Linked DNA regions of Homo sapiens: region 2 is linked to region 1. Evidence: fine-mapped expression QTL. A gene starts in region 1. The other region holds a variant in brackets. All regions are shown on one strand. Distances are between the middles of the regions.

The links. PIP is the estimated chance that this variant, and not a neighbour inherited with it, causes the effect.
Region 2: its variant is the best candidate, but not a certain one, in a credible set for the expression of AMOTL2 in esophagus mucosa (GTEx, PIP 0.55).

What each region holds. Positions count from the first base shown.
Region 1 is chr3:134,372,141-134,376,521 of GRCh38, forward strand. It overlaps AMOTL2 (angiomotin like 2), which reads right to left and starts at 2,307. Exons shown (of 10, transcript NM_016201.4): 1 at 2,202-2,307. RefSeq lists enhancers at 1,567-2,366, 2,367-3,166, 3,167-3,964.
Region 2 is chr3:134,349,301-134,353,681 of GRCh38, forward strand. It overlaps the pseudogene RPL39P5. Among named protein-coding and RNA genes, the nearest start is that of MIR6827, 16 kb to the right of the region's middle. The variant C/T (reference allele first, on the strand shown) is at 1,820.

The sequences.
Region 1 (4,381 bases):
GCCTTGGCACAGTCAACCTACCACCCTCTAGCCCGCTGAACCCCTGGCCACTTTTCCCACTCTCCCTGAACCAGAGAACTCCTGGAGGATGGGCTTGGGCTCTGCTTCATCAAGCGCTGCTGACAGAATGAATCTGGGGCTCCCTGTCATGGGATGACCTTGGCAGTCATTCTGCAAGGTGAACAGGAAGAAGGAGTAATTGCACCTGAATTGGTGAATAAAGGATGAATAAAAATGCTTCAAGAGGACAATGGTTTTGTAAGATGAGGCAAAAAGGTGCCACCCATTAAGGTTAGTGGGTCAGTCTTTTGTGCTGACAGTAACTGCAAGAGAGCTCCAGGAAAAAGGAAGGATGGCATGATGTCTTTGATTTTATGATTATCCTCCCCAACACACACACACACACACACACACACAAACACACACACACGCTACTTGGAAAAGCCCCCACTGGTCCTCTAGGCACATAAGGGATGGGCACTCAGCATCTTTCTTGACATCAGTGTCAAGGAAGCCCATCTTGACTTGGGCCAACTGGAGAAGTAAGGGGAGGCTGTTGGTTGAGAGACCTGGGGCAGGGGAGAGGGGACTGTGAGCCTAAAGTGCTGGGAGATTATATCGGAGAAAGGAGTTCCCTTCTAAGCCTGGGCTCCCAGTGGTTCATGGACTGGAAATCTGCCTGCCTCTCTCACCCAGCTTCCTTTCCACAGCCTCTTCCAACACAAATCTCCAAACTGGGATCCAGGGAAAACTAAACAGAATCCACACTGCCACAGGTCCTGTGTGTATGGGCAGGGGTTGGGGGGGTGGGTGGGAGGAATGTGGCCCCTCCTCTGCCACTAAACTAGCCCTAGTGTCCTGCTTCAGTTTGGGCTATGGCATGTTGGCAGAGCAGCCATTCCCGATCTTTTCCCTCTCCCCACCCCAGTACTCCAGCTGCCCAGAGCTGGGGAGTGGGGGATGAGTCTGGAGGGCACCTCTGTACCCATCCTTCCTGGCACCCAGTCATGCGCCCCCCACACACAACGAGGGGTAGATGTGCAAGACTCCAGAGCTACCCGAGGCAAAGCAAGCAAATGGGATTCAATTCGTATGGGATTCAGTTCGCCCTGGAGTTTTATCTGCGGGCATTTCCTATGATAATCACTCTCTGGGCCGACTCCCACAGAGAAGGCAGGGGAGCGGCAGGAAGGAATGCGGAGCCTTCCTGACAGATTCCAGGCGCTCCATAGTGTGCCCGGACTGGGAGCAAGGAACATCTCCAAGGCCTCTCATCGCGAATTTGTCCCGGCCAAGCCCCTCAGATTCACGTCCTTTCAGACATCAAACGCCTGGGCCTTTACAAAAACCTGCTTCCGCGCCCCCGGCCGCGAACCTCTGCTGCACTCGCCCGCTGCGCTCTCTGAAGGCCGCCTTTCTAAGCCAGCGCGCGTCTCCAGCCTTGGCCTGGGCTCCTGCTCGCCTAAGGAACCAAAGACAGTCTCCAAGCTAGGAGGTTCTGGCACCCCAGCCAGGGCTCCCGCCCCACCACGAGCCCGGGCGGACCTGGAGCACCGGTGGCCGCTGGTACGCCTGGGGCGAGCCGGTGAGGGTAGCCCGAGGCCCGGAGAGGTCTTTAAGCATCGCGGGTCCGCCTCCCTCCCTCTCGAGCCCTCTTTGTTTTCCAAATACTCTAACGCTGACGTCACCGGGCTGGACAGCAGGCTGCATTCTTTCTAAGTGAGGGCCAATTCGTGGCTCCAGAGAGGATTTTCCAAGGAAGACAAAGAGGAATTCTTGGACTAGTTGGGGGCAAAGGCACCTGTAACCCCCACCTAACCAAATCAGCCCGCAGGACCCTGCAACTTGAGCTCCAAGCGGCGCCTCCATCCCTGTCCCCCGCCACCCCCACCCCCGCCGACCTGCAACCCGAAACACTGTGGCTGTTGTCTCCGGAGTCGGCCCTCTCCCCTCTCCCCCAGCCCCAAGAGACCCGCGCGTTTCTAGAGCCCCGCAAAGCCCAGCGCGCTGCGCTCCCTGGGCAGAGCGGCCCTTGCCAGGCACTGCGGCTGCCTCGAAAGGGCGCACTGCGCCCCGAGGACGCTCGATCCTCGAGGCTCCGACTCCCGGAAAAGGCCGGGTTGCGCCGAGACTCCAGCTTTGGCTGGGGCACGTTTCTGTGGCCTCGCGCGCTCTCCCGAGCGCCGAGCGGCCTTCCTTACCGCTGCGGCCCGAGGGTGCCCAGCGCAGTCAGACACCACAACCTCCGGCTCGGCCCAGCTCAGCTCGGCGGCGAAGATGTGTTCTCGGCCGTGGCGCCGACGCTCTGGCTGTTCGCGCCCCAGCGCGCAGCCCCAGGGTCGGCCCGCGCCGGAGGCGGCTGCTATGCCAGGAATGTGAGAGTTTCAGGTTCCCCCTCGGGATCAAAGCGAACCACAAATAACCTCTCAGCGCACCGCCCTCCTCCGCCCTCCGCCTTCTCCCGCTCCCTCCTCCCGGCCCCCGCCTTCCTCCGGGGAGGCGGCGCTGCTGGCCGAGCGCCGGCCCGGCCCCCGAGCTCCGTTCCTCCGCGCCCAGCGCCCTCCAGGCCGCGGTGTGTCCGCCCCTGCCCCATGCTTTGCCTTCGGAGCTGCTGGAGACAATTTAATCCAACTCTGCCCATTATCGCCTCCACTCCCAGTCGCCGACCCGCTCTCACCCTTCATCCCTAAACCCATCGACGGGACGACAGCAAGGGCTGTACCACGCGTGTCCTGGGGTTGCTGCGGGAGGGGACTCCGGCTGTGTGTGTGTGTGTGTGTGTGTGTGCGTGTGTGTGTACCGGGGGAGGTGGGAAAGGGAGGAGGGACTGCAAAGACATCCATATCCTCTGGGCTGGGACAGTGCCCCGGGCTAAGTGAATGCTTCCAGCCACAGAGCCTCTTTCCCCTAACCCCCGCTGTTTTCACCCCCAGCGGCAACCTTTGAATGCACTTTTGTTTACAAACACCTTCGCCAGCTATTTTACGACCGTCTCGACAGGAAGTGTGAATCTGGGTTGGAAAATCCGGTCAATTTGACCCACCTACCCAACTGAATCACCCGCCGCCAGGCGCTCTGTCCAGTTCTTCCCCAAGGTGATAATAGGCGCCCCTTTACGCAGAGTGCAAGGTGTGCCACCGCTGGCTTTTCGCCCAGTCATCCGATTCAGCCCTGCCAAGCACCCTCCAACGGAGTTCTGTTATCATCCCTGTGTTGTAAATGAGGACACCAGGGCTCAGAGAGCTTAAGCAGCGTGCCCAGAGTCACACACAGTGAGAACCAGGTAATCAACCACTGGGCTGCTTGGTTTCTCATTCTCAAAACCCCTCCCTGGCTATCAGAATCCAGGCTCCCTAGATGGACAGGGCAGACACTGGGAGCCCTCCTCTCTCCACTTACCCTGTCCTTGCTTTAGTCTCTTCTTTACCTCCCCCTACACCCCTGCCAGCCAGGGGCTTTCCCCTGTACCCACTTCTGTGGCTCCTGCATGGAATCCTCTCCTCTGCCCCCAGGACACTTCCACTGCTAGATGGAAACCCCTTCTTCAGAAAGCTCGCTCTGACACATGCTGTCCCCGTTCCCCATCACACAAGCCCTCTCTACAAGTCAGTTGGGGTGAGGTGGGGGCAGTCAGGCCCCTGTCCACCCAGAGAGTCAGGGCTGATTTCTACCCCTGGCTGGGTCCTCCCATCAGCATGGAGTTTGCAAGTCCCAAATTCACTGGAGGGAAACAAGGACAAGGAAATTCTGCAAGCTTAATTGCCAGGGACATTGTTAATTTTTAATAAAACTCACAAAAAGTGTGTGTGTGTGTGCGCACGTGTGTGTTTTACTTGGAAGTCAAATACTGTGTTTCAAACAGTGATTGGATCTGAGATGATTGAGCAAATGGATCATTTGTGCCAAGCTACGGGATATTTGTCTTTCCAAGGATCCCCTTACGAAGAGAAGCTGTGATCAGTATACCACTGTAGGTAGGAATTTTAGAAGTGAAAGGAAAGAGGTCTCTGAGTGGCCTTACCTTATGGACAGCATAATTGGTGGAGGCAGGGGAGTGGTTGTGGACATGTGCACTCGGGTTGTAAAACCAGGGGAAAGACCACATGGTACAGTCCTGTCTTTCAGGCATTTGGGAGGATACCTGACAAAATGTTTGACAAATATTCTTGAGATGGTTGCAGAAAGGCGTCAGTTCAAGGCAGCTAGGGTGAAGGAGGTACATCTTGGAGTGGACAAGCCTGCTGCAGAGCCACACAGGCCCCCATGATTGCTAATTTCTGTCCCCAAAGGGACAGAAGCGGGAGAGGGATCCCAAAACCTAAATGAGAAATGTGCATGTACTTTTATTTTTCCTTTCCCTTTCTCTCTGCAGAAAGAACAG
Region 2 (4,381 bases), 23 kb before region 1:
CTTCATCTTGCCACATGTCTCCTGTGCCATATAACCCGGGCTCAGATGCAGAAGCCAGTCAGATGGATAGAAACTTCCTCACAGTCATGGCCCTGTGCCTATAGATGCAGAAGCAGGGCTCAGACCACGTCCTGGGTTAAAGCACCTCTTGTGTTCAAAGCTGGAGGTAGATGCACTGAGCACAGAAAACAATGTCATTTTATTAAAAGAATGGCCTGTGTTGTGAGTGACCCTCATATCAGGTGTTGAGAGCTGGCTTGTAAAGAAAGAAGGTTCTGAAAGGAGAGGAGACCAGGTAGAATGTAACTGTGGCCCCACTCAGGATGCTGGTGGGCCTGGGATGATTTGGGGGGCCTTTCCTTCACAGGTGTCCCTCCTACAATGCTCCCTTGCTTCCTGCCCCTGCCCTTCGCCCCTCAGCGGGGCTTCAACCAGTTGAAGTCCAAGTTTATAAATTCTCTTTCCTTTTATTAAAGCTTCTATCTGGAATGCGCATTTCTCAGTTACACACATGGCTCACTCCCTTACCTCCTTCAAATCTTTGCTCAAATGTCACCTTCTTAATAACGCCTCTTTAAAACTGCAACTCTCCCGCAGCCCCACCACCTTGCTTCAAACTCCTCATCCCTCTTGTCCTTCCCTTTTTTCCCCCAAAGCTCTTGTCACCTTGGCACACAGTGTGGACCAGCACTGCAAGAGGACACACATACAGAAATTGAGGGGATGCATTTGGAAGCTTCTATGCTATAGCATCTCTAGCTATGGGATCTCTAAATTTGATATTGCTCAGAAATCCAAATGCAGATTGAAAAAAAACAACTGATTTTTCACCACAGAGAGTTTAAGAATTATTGTTCTCCCATACTCTATCAAGTTTAGTTTCCTGTTTGTCTTCCCCCACCCCACTCCTGCTAGAGTGAAGTTCCATGGGGCAGGGATTTTGTCTGCTTTATTCCCCATTGACTCCCCCCAGTATCTAGAATGGGTGTGGTACATGCTGGGTCCTTAATGGCTATTAGTTGAGTGCGTACATGTGCAAGGGGAGGTCTGAGAGGTGAATATCTTTCAATGGACAAGTGGTGGGATGGCTGCAAAAGTTCAACCACAGGCCCCTGAGCTGACCACACTGTTCCCAGGACCACGCCTTGACGGTCCAGCTTGGGGGCTGCAGGAAAGAGGCACAGGACTTGAGCACAGGCCTTTGAAAATGCTGCCCCAAGTAGAGGTACACTGACAGGTGTGAGGCCAGAGTCTTTCTTGTGGCACAGGACAGGTCCTCCTTTCCCATGAACTTGGGAACAGAAGGGGCAGGGACTGGGAGACAAATGCTGCCATTCCCCAGAAGGCATCACCAACCTCTCCCCCTCCCTTTATTGTGGTGCTCTGGCTTCCAGGGAGGAAGGGGTGGGAGGTTGGCACCTAGGGATGGCATGGAGGCTCTGGGGAAGCCTTTCCCTGGACCTTGCCTGGCTCAGATCTTTGTGGCCTTGATCAACAACCCCTGTGAGTTGTTCTTGGGACCCAAACACTACAAGGCATGGCTGGGAACTGCTGCCCTGATAACAAGTGTTTCACCCCACCCTTCCCTTGCTGCTGCCCCTGCCCCTATCCTCTCCCAGAGGGAGCCCAGGGCTGTCAGGGCCAGGCAGGAGAAGCTCCAGGCAGGTGCGGCTCTCCTAGGGGTGGAGAGAGTTCTGATTCCGCCTGCTGTTCCCATGGCTGGGGCTGGCTACTGCCCATGTGGCAGTCAGCGCCTGGGCCTGACTCAGGGACCAGCCATCTGGCAGGGCCAGTTCTGGGCTCACACACCTACCTCCAC[C/T]TCCACCTGCTCATTCACTCTGCTCCCCAAGCCCTCGGGCTCAGCTTCTCCTTCTCTGACCTGAAGACTCCACCCACAGAGTCCCTTTTATCCTCTCCCACCTCTCCCACTTTCAGTGAATGGCAATGGGGGATGGGCACCTGGCCAAGGAGGAAGGGCTTGGGAACTTTGGTCAGAATATCCTACAGGGCTACTGATCAAGCAGGGCCACCTGTGACACCAGCGCAAGGACAAGAGTAAACACCTGTATAATTAAAAAGCTCGGTTACGTCTTTTTACCTGTGGCTCCTTCTGACCCAAGAAGAGCTACAGACTAATGTCTGCTAGCAAGAGTTCCTTCATTCTGCACATCCCAGCTGTCCTCCCCATCATGGTCCTGTGGGAGCAGAAAGGAAGCTGGAGAGGGGAGGCTGCCAGGAGGAAGCGATGTTCAAGCTGGAGGAGAAAAGAGATGAGAAAGGCATTGCGAGGAAAAGGATTGGGATGTGCAAAGGCCTGCAGTTCAAAGAGGCCACAGTGCACTTGGAGCCATCCCTGCGTGGTTTGTATGGCTGGGCATGCACAGAAGGCTGATGAAATCCGGAGCCCCTGGGAAGGAGGCCTATTTTTCTTTTTTTTGAAATGAAAGGTCTCATGTATTTATTACGGAACCCAGCCAACCAGAAAGTTCCTAACAGATTCAGAGAGAAAAAGTATATTCCCAAAAAAACATGTCCAACTGTCCAGATAGTGGTGACATTTTCAGCTTGATATGGTAACATGATTGTGACCTTTAGACAGCATAAATATGTGTGCCATCTCATGTTCAATTCCTTACAGACCTAGCTTGGTTCTTTTCCAATGTCTCCTCTTGGAGTTGTACCTGATTTTATTACCAGTTTTCATCCGAATCCACTGGGGAATGGGACGATTTTGCTTTTGTTTCTTGGCCAGGAATTGCTTAATCTTGAAAGTCTTGTGAGAAGACATGGAGAGAGGCGGAGCCAAACACACACTACAATGGTGGAGAAAGGAAGAGAGAGGGGCCTGTTTTTCTTTTTAAGTTAAAAAAGGTTATTGTGTTTTCAAGGCAAACCTAGCCGTGGTTTTTGTAGTCACTCTATGGTTGAGATTTTGGTATTTTTGCCATAATGCAATATGCTGTGAAGATTTCCATAGTACACTGTGTTGAGCAAGAAAGGCTTCAGAAGAGAGACTGGGCAGGGCTCTTTTCAAGGCTCCTGAAGCTTCAAAAGAAGGCCAACTTGATGCAAGAAGAGGCAAACCTGTGCAGGGAAATAACCAAATTATTGCCCAACACACCTGGAATGTGCCCCCAGGTAGGAGCCTTTGGACTTGCAAGAGGCATTTATCTCAGGACAGATCATGACACCAGGTTGGCTCAGAATCAAAAGCTGATGGGCCCACAGAGTAGAGTAGAATGTGTCCCTGTTGCAATCAAGTGCAAGTGGCATGGCTCTCCAGGGCACCGAGAGCCAACTGTCAGATGTGCCCCACTCCCACTCCTGCTGGGGGCTGGAGGTTTGGCTGGTGGGCGAGAGCAGGGTGCACATGAGAGTCATTTACAGTTTGGTCCTCAGCAAACTGGTCAGCCCTTTCATCCAGGCTCTGTGGTGATAACCCCATCCTGCGCCTAGACCGCAGGCTCCCTTTGTGGGTACCTCCACCCTACAGAGGGGGCTGTTTTTAGTGGATATCCAGTACCAGCCACTTCATCTGCAGAAGAAAAACTGCAACTTCATTGACTTCCAGATCCAAGCCTCACCTGGGAGAGACAAGGATGAACCCAAGTCCTGGGTACTTCCCAGGGCTCCATTCCCATCAGGGAAACACAATGCCCAATGCCCAGACAGACAGATTTACTGTGAAGCTAATGAATCTTGTACCTCGGGGTGCTCACTTGAAGAAGCCCCTTCCAAAACTCTAGATCTAATTTTGTATTCACCACTTTGCATTCTTTTTCTTCAAGAGGGTCCTCCAAATTATACAGGCTTCAGGCCTCACAAAATTGGACCGACCCCTGCCAATTCTCCTTGACTCTGGCAAACCTTAGCAAACATGGGTGCCTTGGGCTCAGGGCTCATGGGCCTCCTTTCCAAACCTCAGGACCTCCACCCTGGCAGCCTAGGGAATGAAATGTGGGAGATTCCAGCTCAGAGCAGATAGTGTCCTGGCTGCAGCCCAGCAGAGGTACTCTGGGGCTGCTGGGCCCAGGATGGGTGAAAGGGGACTCTCTGCAATAGAAAGTTCAAAGTGTCAGCCTAGGAAAGAGGAGCCGACAAGTGTGAAGGCAGCAGATCCAATAACACTTCTAATTGTGTCCACATGGCCCACTGGTGGGGCATTTGCTGATGACCCGTGGTTGACCGCTGGCTTAAAGTAGATGCTGTGATACAAAACACCACTGAATGGTGCACTTCAAAAGGGTGAATTTTATGGTATGTGAATTCTATCTTGTTTGGAAAAAAAAAAAAGATGCTTAGGGTTCAATTGCTGTGGCACTTCACCCATGTGTTAGATCCAGGCATGGCACGTCCAGGAATGCACTGCTGGTTGCGGGGG